Linked DNA regions of Homo sapiens. The protein of the gene in region 1 purifies or fractionates together with the protein of each later gene. This does not show direct contact. Each region holds a gene or a part of one and is shown on either strand. Other genes may lie near its edges.

Evidence for each region. The genes of interacting proteins can lie anywhere in the genome.
Region 2: the proteins of BORCS8-MEF2B (region 1) and UBN2 purify together in Homo sapiens (affinity purification with mass spectrometry, with the first as the bait; one large-scale study listed by BioGRID). This does not show direct contact.

What each region holds. Positions count from the first base shown.
Region 1 is NC_000019.10:19,189,353-19,193,825, forward strand, and holds the start of BORCS8-MEF2B (myocyte-specific enhancer factor 2B), read right to left. Parts: upstream 2,801-4,473; 5' UTR 2,766-2,800; coding exon of another isoform or gene 2,729-2,765; intron 1-2,728. Other genes in the region: BORCS8 (BLOC-1-related complex subunit 8), read right to left, coding at 2,729-2,765. UniProt on the Homo sapiens protein: Transcriptional activator which binds specifically to the MEF2 element, 5'-YTA[AT](4)TAR-3', found in numerous muscle-specific genes. Activates transcription via this element. May be involved in muscle-specific and/or growth factor-related transcription.
Region 2 is NC_000007.14:139,229,368-139,234,368, reverse strand, and holds the start of UBN2 (ubinuclein-2), read right to left. Parts: upstream 3,133-5,001; 5' UTR 2,885-3,132; coding exon 2,417-2,884; intron 1,949-2,416; exon of another isoform or gene 1,912-1,948; intron 1-1,911.

The DNA.
Region 1 (4,473 bases):
CTCTGCTTCCCCTGCTGCCAACAGTTCAACCTCCATGCAGCACGTGAGGCAAACTCCAAATGAACAAATCATCTATTCCCACCCTTGCTTTAAACTCTTCCATAGCTCCCACCTGCCAGAGAATAAAATCCGCCTTTCTTGCCCTGCATGTTCTGGCTGCTCTTGACCTCCCTGCCTTCCTTGCCCTCCACCCCTGGCTCTTCCTTGGACCTCCCAGCACTGCCCAGAACTTTCTCACTGCCCGAGAGGACAAGGTAGGAGGATCACTTGAGGATAAGAATTTGAGACCAACGCCGGGTGCGGTGGCTCACGCCTGTAATCCCAGCACTTTGGCAGGAGGATGGATTCAGCCTAGGAGTTCAAGACCAGCCTGGGAGACATGGCGAAACCCCACCTCTATAAAAAATTGCAAAAATAAGCTGGTCATGGTGATCTATACCTGTAGTCCCAGCTACTCAGGAGGCTGAGGTGGGAGGACTGCTTGGGTCTGACAAGTGGAGGCTGCAGTGAGCCATGATCATACCACTGCACTCCAGTCTGGGCAAAAGAGTGAGACTCTGTCCCAAAAAAAAAAAAATTAAATGCCCGTATGTGACCAGTTGCTCCTTTATTCATTACAGCAGAGCTCTAAACACTTGGTCACCTCAAGGCCTTTGCACTTGGTATTCCCACCTGGAGACACCATTCCGTCACTGGCTCTCCTTCATCCCTCAGGTCTGCTCAAATGTCACCTCCTGGGCAAGACCCTCCCTGACTACCAAGCTTAAAAGATGACCCCTCCACCTCACGGAGGACCTTGGCAGGCATTTTGTTCCTTTCTCTTAATACCAATTTCAACTGATTAGGTTACATGTTCACAGGAAAAGTTAAAAGCTTGGACTTGGGAGAGCAGAGCTTCTCTGAGCCTCAGCTTCCTCATCCACAAAAAAAGAATAACAGCACCAGCCTCAAAGTTTGCTACAGAGATGAATCCAATGCCATCACCAGGGTGACTGCTCAGGAGAGAGAACCCAGGCGTGTCTGGGAGTCAAAGGAGGCTAACACAAGTCTCTCCATCTCACCACTGTGCCTTGAGTGGCAGAGCCCAGCCTGCCACCTCCAAACTGTGTGACCTCTTACCAGATAGGCCTCCTCGCTTTGAATGTGAGCATAACGGCCAGGGGCGGTGGCCCACGCCTGTAATTCCAGAACTTTGGGAGGCCGAAGCGGGAGGATCACCTGAGGTTGGGAGTTCGACACCAGCCTGACCAACGTGGAGAAACCCCGTTTCTACTGAAAATACAAAATTAGCCAGGCATGGTGGTGCATGCCTGTAATCCCAGCTATTCGGGAGGCTGAGGCAGGAGAAACACTTGAACCCGGGAGGCGGAGGTTGCCGTGAGCCATGATCACGCCATTGCACTCCAGCCTTGGCAACAAGAGCAAAACTCCGTCTCAAATAAAAAAAAAGAAGAAGAAAGGTGAGCATAACAGACAAGGCACGGTGGCTCATGCCTCATACTCATGCCCTCCGTTATCCATGGTTCCCGAATCTGTGGATTCAACCAACCGTGGATGGAAAATAGGAAAAAAAAAATTCCACAAAGTTTCAAAAAGCAAAACTTCAATCTGCCCTACACGAAGCACTTCTTTGAATCCATGTGAATGAAGTGATGTGTAGGCCTGTATTATGTATTCTAGATGTGAGTAATCTAGGGTGATTTAAAGTATAGGGGATTAGCTGGGTGCAGTGGTTCACACCTGTAATCCCAGCACTTTGGGAGGCCAAGGTGGGTGGATCACTCGAGGTCAGGAGTTCGAGACTAGCCTGAGCAACAAGGTGAAACCCCGTCTCTACTAAAAATACAAAAAAATTAGCTGGGCATGGGGGTGTGTGCCTGTAATCCTAGCTACTCAGGGGGCTGAGGTTGCAGTGAGCTGAGATCCCCCCACGGCACTCCAGCCTGGGTGACAGAGCGAGACTCCGTCAAAAAAAAAAAAAATTAAAGAATTAGCCTGATGTGGTGGTGTGCACTTGTAGTCCCAGCTACTGGAGAAGCTGAGGCAAGAGGATCGCCCGCGCCAGAGAGATCGAGGCTACAGTGAGCCATGATCGCGCCACCGCACCCCAGCCTGGGCGACAGTGTGATACCTTGTCTCAAAAAAAAAAAAAAAAAAGGAAACAAGACGCACAGCGATTACTACGCCCCGGGGATTCTTCCAATGCATTACAAATATCAGGTTGTTGAGTTTTTTTTTTTTAGACAGGGTCTCACTTGTCACCCAGGCTGGGGGTGCAGTGGCACGACCGTAGCCCACTGCAGTGCAGCCTTGACCTCCCGGGCTCAAGCAATCCTCCCACCTTAGCCGCCCAAGTAGCTGGGACCACAGGCGTGCGCCACCACGCCCGGCTAATTTTTGTATTTTTTTAGAGACGAGATCTCACTATGTCACCTAGGCTGGTCTCGGGCTCAAGCGATCCTCCCGCCTAGGCCTCCCAAAGTGCTGGGATTACAAAGCCACCACTCCCAGCCTCAGCTACTGAATTCTTGAAACAATCCTGGGGGGACCGGTAATTAAAGCAGACACGGAGCCTTTCTACAGGTTTCAAAACTAGTCAGCGGCAGAGCTGGGATTGGACGGCAGTTCAATCACTGCTCCTCGCACGGTCCCTCCGCGCCCGGCCTTTGTCAGGCCGCCCCTCCACAAGTTACCGGCCCCCTCTGTCCCGCCCGCAGGCCCGCACCACCTTTCTTCCCCTTGAGCTGCATCTCCGGCTCCTCCATAGCGACCGCGGCCGAGCGAACCGGGAAACGGCACCGGAAGCCCGGAGGTTGGGACGCCCGCCTAAGCCTTCCCTGCTGAAACCGGACGCCGCACGGCTCCTGTTCCGGTGTCAGAGGGCCCGCCCTCCCCGCTCCTCAGTCTTTGCGGACAAGAAAGGGGCTGTGTGAGACGCAGGGAAGGAGGCACACCCGGGGGTGGCGCAGTGAGGAGGGGGCGCGACGGCCAGGAGGCTGGTGGAGCGACACCCAGGCAGGAGAGGGGGAAGAACTCTCTCCCTTTCTGAACCCCCTTTTCCTTGAGAGACGAGTTGGGGGAGTCCTCCACGCATTACCCACTCGGGCCGCAAAAACTCCCTTCTTTAGCCCTCTGCCCCCGCCCTTGCTTATAAGCCTTTGAGACCGCAGAAGGGACCTTGTTGTGGAACGGGACGGCCAAGGTACGCTGCCCCTTTAAGTTCCAGACGCCCCGCGTACTTCCCCTACTTCTTCTTCTTGAGATAGCCCCGCCCATCTACCCGAAGCCGGAGCCAATTGGCTCCCTCTGGAAAAATCTGTGGGCAGGGTAAAGGTGAGCGGGCGCAGGCGTAGTGAAATTCTCAGAGCCCTTTAGGCCCCGCCCATTCCCTCCGAGTCGGTGAGGAGGGGAAAAGAAGGCGCAGGCGCAACTGCCCTCCCAGGACCCCAGCGGAACCCACGCCCTCCCCTAAGTCTTAAAGGGCCAGAGGCAGCACTTACTGCCCGGGCCCTTCCTCACTTTTGGGGGGCGGGGGTGCGCAAGCGCAGTGGGGGAGCTCTGGGGTGGGGGTAGCGGTCGAGTATCAAGTTGCTTTCTGTCCCGGCAGAGGAAGCCAGATCGCTGAGGGTCCGGTCTCCAGTTTGCCTCCTGCTATATCCATTGGAAGAGAAAAGTTTGTGACTTGGGCCCCCAAGTTTTGAGAGAACTGGGCTTTCGGCGCGGGGGGACAGAGGAGGCTCGTGGGGAGGTGAGTGGACCTCCTGGATCGATTTAGGAGGCTCGGGTGGGACTGGGACCAATCGCACCTTTGTTGAGCCGTCACTCATTATGGGGAGCCCCTCCCAACAACCATAGCGAATATTTATTGAGCTCCACGCTTAGCAGATCCCCCGATAAGCTATGTACAGACATAATTCGTTGTAGGTCTCATTTCCACATTTTGTCGTGGAGGAAACTGAGGCTCAAAGGTTAAGTCACGTGCCCAAGTTCTCACGGCCTATAAATTGAGGGATTCGAACCCAGACAGCTGACCCCAGAGCCCCGGCTTTTTTTTCCTTTCTTTTTTTTTTTTTTTTTTTTTTTTGAGACAGAGTCTTGCTCTGTCGCCCCAGCTACAGTGCAGTGGTGCGATCTCTGCTCACCGCAACCTCCACCTCCCGAGTTCAAGCAATTCTGCCTCAGCCTCCCGAGTAGCTGGGATCACAGGCGCCCGCCACCGCGCTTGGCTAATTTTTGTATTTTTAGTACAGATGGGGTTTCACCATGGTGGCCAGCCTGGTCTCGAACTCCTGACCTCATGATCCACCCTCCTCGGCCTCCCAAAGTGCTGGGATTACAGCCGTGAGCCACTGTGCCCTGCCAGAGCCCAGGCTCTTAAACATTGCACATTGTAGGTGCTTTGGTGGTGGGGAATGGTAGACCTCGAAAGCAGTTGGACTCTGGTTTTCATTTCCCTGGCTCTGGTAATTAACC
Region 2 (5,001 bases), on another chromosome or scaffold:
AGAAGGGAACTGATTTAAATGCACCCACATGAATGGTATCCATATGTAACACACCTTTTGTTGTTTGTTTTTTTTTAATAGCCCCACATCTACCAATTTCAGCATCTGGAGCTAAAATCTTATTTAGTGATAGATGGCTATTTCAAAAATGTGGAGCCCTTCCTTTTCTAATTCTTCTAATTTTGGGAACCACCAACTTTCCAGACCAATTCTAATGTTCGCATTTTGCTTTTTGATGGTCTCTCTTCTAGGATTTCCTTTCATGAAACCATGACAATTTTACTTAAACATATGTTTTCTATGCTTTCTTGCATAATAAGGATATACACTGGCAGCAATCACAGGAAAATGTGGCAAATCTTTGTTGCAAAGGTGATTATATACAATGGATTTTGTTTTGTTCAGAGGTATATGAAAAAAATAGAAGGTTGATATACGAGATAATTGGGCCAATAGACACCTATACTGTTAATAAGTATACAGAAAAATTAAATGGAATTTTTCCTCTTTCTCCTATTGCATGAAAGTAGTAGTTCTGGTGTTATCAAGTTAACAAAGCTAGGGTGTCAAACCTTTTTCTTTTTATAATTAAATGATACACATTATTAATTTGCCATCGTGTGAATATTACAGCATAAACAGAGACATAATAAAGGTCTTTGTATTTCTACTGCGACTTACATTTTACGTCATTTTGGCAGAATCCTCTAAACTATATGAGTTAATTTTAAGAAATTTTGTTTTACTAACAAATTGTATCACTATGGAAAGAAGTACTAATAAAATTACATACATTTGTAAAGTGAGGATAATAGTTTTTACCTCGTGGAGTTCTGTTGGACTACTAGAAAAACCATGTGCAGTGCTTAGAACTGTGTCTAGCACACAGTAAGAACCAGTAAATGTCGTTATTGCTATGTATTTTTATCCAAAGATAATGCTTTTCTCCTGTAATTTATGAAAATTACAAAAACTGCAAACCAACTTAGATTAGCAGCTCAAATACAATGTTTGAAAAATGCTCCAATCCAATATTTTTAATATTCTTTTGGGAAAAAAGTGACCTCAGATTTATAAAGAAGGGGCATTCAAGTGAGTCTGACGAGCAAAATGTTAGGTGGAAGTGACCAAAATGATCTCTACCTTTAAACAATTCATTTTGGTTGAAAACATTTTGTAATGATTTGACCACATAACATTTCTAAATAATGATCAAAACATTAGCTGGCCATGAAGTAAACAAAACCTAGTGAAATTGTTCAACATGATACTTTGTGACTAAGCAGTCAGTCATTTTGACCATAAAGGTAGTTGAAGATGAAAACAAAACAAGGGACTTCTGGAGTCCATTAGACTCAAGCTAAAGCAAAACCTAATAACGGGTATAATTGCTAAGCAACAGAGAAAACTGTTCTCTTTCCTTACTGTTAATCTATCATTTCCTTTTCTAACTTACTTCTGAAGATCCACCAACCCACAACAATAAAAATTACAATTACGAACATAACCCCTATCCTTTCTCCATTGTTCACCTCTTACATCAAAAGCATACCTATATATTTTCAATTATTTTAAAAAATTCAAAGCTGACATTTTTTTCATCATCCTCCGAAAATTACAAAGGCTGAATACAATATCCTTCTATAAACTAATGATAGTACACTTAAATAATATGACGGGTAGGTGTCAAATAAAACAGGAGACACCTTCCCATTCAATTACAATATGAACGAACTCCACAAAAAAGGAAAGCTAAAAAGGTTTTCCAATACCAACACGAGAGAAAAATTAGTAACCAGATTAACTAACCCACTTCTCCATTCCTAAAGTGGGATCCTTAGTCTCTGAAAACCTTTAATTATTCTTAAATTCCCTTCGATTAAGAAAAATATCACAGGCACGCAAGCACACCTCAGCAGCCACGGCGCCCAGCAAAACAAACAGTGATGAGGATGAGGATGATACGAGAGGGGTTACACAATCTCTGCTTCAGACTGGGGGGCGTGTCCCCCAAGGTTTTCTCTTCCTTTCTACTGGAACGACAGCTGTAGCGCCACAGGGAGAACCCAGCCACACGGCCTGCAGGGCCCCAGGATTTTGTGTGGGGAGCAGAAAGGAAAGAAGGAAAATCTGAGGTTCCGAAAGGTGCACAAGAAAACGAGCTCGGCGCGGCGTTGGGAGCGAGTGCCGGGGGTTTGGGGATTCGGCGCAGCCGGGTGAGAGCCTCGGCCACCCTGGGGAGTGGAGAAAGCAGCGCTCACCGCCCCGTCCACCCGCTCGGCCCCGGCCCCCCGCACCCCACCCTCGGGGCGACCCGGACGCGCTCGGTGGGCGTCCCAAGGTGCAAACCAGCTGGGGAAGGCGGCGGGTCCTGAGGCTCCCGGGGTCTGGGGCAGGAGGGAAGAATCTTCTGTACCCGTTGTTCTCCGCACAGCAGCAGCTCCGGGTAACTGAACTCCACGCAGCTCTCGTCGGTGGGGTCCTTAAGCACCAGCTCCAGGCGCACCGTCTCCCTCGGCGGCCGCGGCGGCTGCTCAGCCCGGGAAGCCGACTCCCGCGGCGGGGGCGGCTGCAAGGGCAGCGGCGGGAACGGCGGCGGCGGCTCGGGCCGCGGGGGCTCCCGCTGCAGCGACATGGGCGGCTCGGCGCGGCTGACCTCGCGCTGGGGGAGCGGCTTCTCCCGCGACGGGGGCTGCGCGTCCGAGCGGGGGGCAGGCTCCCGCGGGGCCGGCGGCTCCGCCCGGGCCGGCTCGCGGTACGGCTGCGGCTCCAGCCGGGGGGGCTCGCGGGGGTACTCGGGCTCACGCTCGGGCCCCGGGTACTCGGCCTCGCGCCGCCGCACCGGTGACAAGCTAATGAACGCTACTCTGCGCGGCTCCGCCATCCCCACTGTTCTGGCCCTCCGCTTTTGCTCGAGCCGGCGCTCGCTTCTACGGCGCGCTGCGTGCCTGCCCGCCCTTCCTCTTGCTCTCTGTCGCTTTTCTTCCCTCCACCACCCTCAGCCGTCTCCGCCGGCGCCACGGTGAGTGCGGACCGTGTCCCCTTCCCCGCTACTACGTTCTGATGGGCTTCACCGCCATCGCCAGGGTCGCCGCGGCCGCCATGTTGGATCCCCCACATAAATAGAAGCAGGCCGCTGAGCGGGCGCATGCGCACAGAGGAGACGCTCGCGTCCACTGTCGTGGCTGTTGCTCAGTTTTCCTCTTTTCCTCCCAACAGTCTGGAGTCCAGACAGGTCGGCGGAAGTGACGACATGGCTCGGCCTGTTTCCGTGGAAACGGAGACGCCGTCTGCACCCTTCCTCAAAGGGAGGGTTCTGGGGTTTCCCGAGCAGTTTACTATTCGCACCCGGAAACCAGAGGCGCTCCAGGAGCTTCCCGGGGCTAGCATCGGGATGGGACTGAGACCGACCTAGCCATTGGCGCCGGGTCTCCCGTGCTGGGTTCAAGGGAATTGGGGTTGTTAGCTGATTATTCAAGGCGGACTCTGGGCAAGGGTAGAGAGACGCGCCAGCCGTTGTGCCTGCCCGCCCTGTGTCCCCGTAGCCTTAAGTATCGAGGGAAAAAAGGAAGTGCCCAGCTTCAGCCAGACTAGCCCCAGCGGCTTCCCTCCCGAAAGCGCAGGCCTCCCCTTCCTCGACCTACTCCGGTTTCCCTCGCCCGGCCGCAGTGGGCGTTGCGTGGGGCAGGGTCATTAAATGTTCAATAACGCTTTGCAGTTGGAAAATTAACAAGCAGATGAGGAGTTCTGGGCTCATTCAGAAGGCCTAAACTGCTGAAATCATAGAAAACTTCTTAAGAGGGTTTAGTGGTATTTCAGGAAACGTACTGTTTATGAGAATGCTAAAGGACCCATTTCAGGATGGGGAAGGAATTGATTGGGCACGCCCCATAGGCTCACTTGTAATTAATTAATTGGAAGTCGGGTTTAAAAGGATAAGAATTACTGGCCATTTTAATCCATTGAATAAAAAGTAAATTTGAGGGCTCGCCCTTCACATCCTGAAGGGAATCCAAGCCTTCTGTTAATTGCATTAACTATTGAAAGCTCTTTTATTAAGTCAGTGTGACGTCATTGACAAATTCTGAGAGGGTTCCGTTTTTTCCTCTCCTGTTATTACTTTCCCTACTTGGACGAAGATGGTGATGAAATCTATGATTCCAAAGGTCTCTCCCAGCTCTAAAACCCTATCTTTTCTACTCGGCGCCATGTTTTACCTACATTATCTCCTTCCCTATTGCTCCTTTTCTGATTCTGAATTCGGGTCTCATTTTTAGATTGCCTTAGTGATACTTAAATGACCTTTCTGCCTTCAGTCTCTGTTCCCACCAGTCTTGAGACGGGGTCATATTAATGTCTCTAAAAGAGTTTTTATTATATCGTTCTCTGTTCTGGCTGCAACTTACCTACAAACTGAGTTCTATGTATGTATACTCATATTCAATATCCTCCACAATTTAGCTCAGAGACTGCAAACTGGTGGTCTGTGGGCCAAATCCTTCTACAGGTGTGTTACTTATCCAACATTATCTTCTAACTTCTCACCCACTGAGTTTTCCAACTTTTTGATCCATAACCCACAGTAAGACATTTTACACTGTAACCTAGAATATACACCCATATATACATAACACATATGTGCATATGTGAAATATAAGTTTCACAATACTTACCTACTGCTTAGGATAAAGTAAAAGCAACAGACGCAACAGAGTTAATTTAATATAAAATATTTTATAATACAGTGTAGAAAAAAATGTTAACATCATATAGAAGCAAATTAGGAAAGATTTTATTTAATGCCATGGAAGTTCTTGCCTGATCATAGGTTTATTGCACTCCAGAATTCATTAGGACAGTGGTACATGAACATCTGATCCACTGTGGTGCCTGATCTTTTTCTTCTTCTAAACTGATCAAAATTGAAAACCCTAGTTCAGATATATAGGCAGTCATGAATAGTAATAATGCGTATGCATGTTCTGCATAGTAATAAATTCT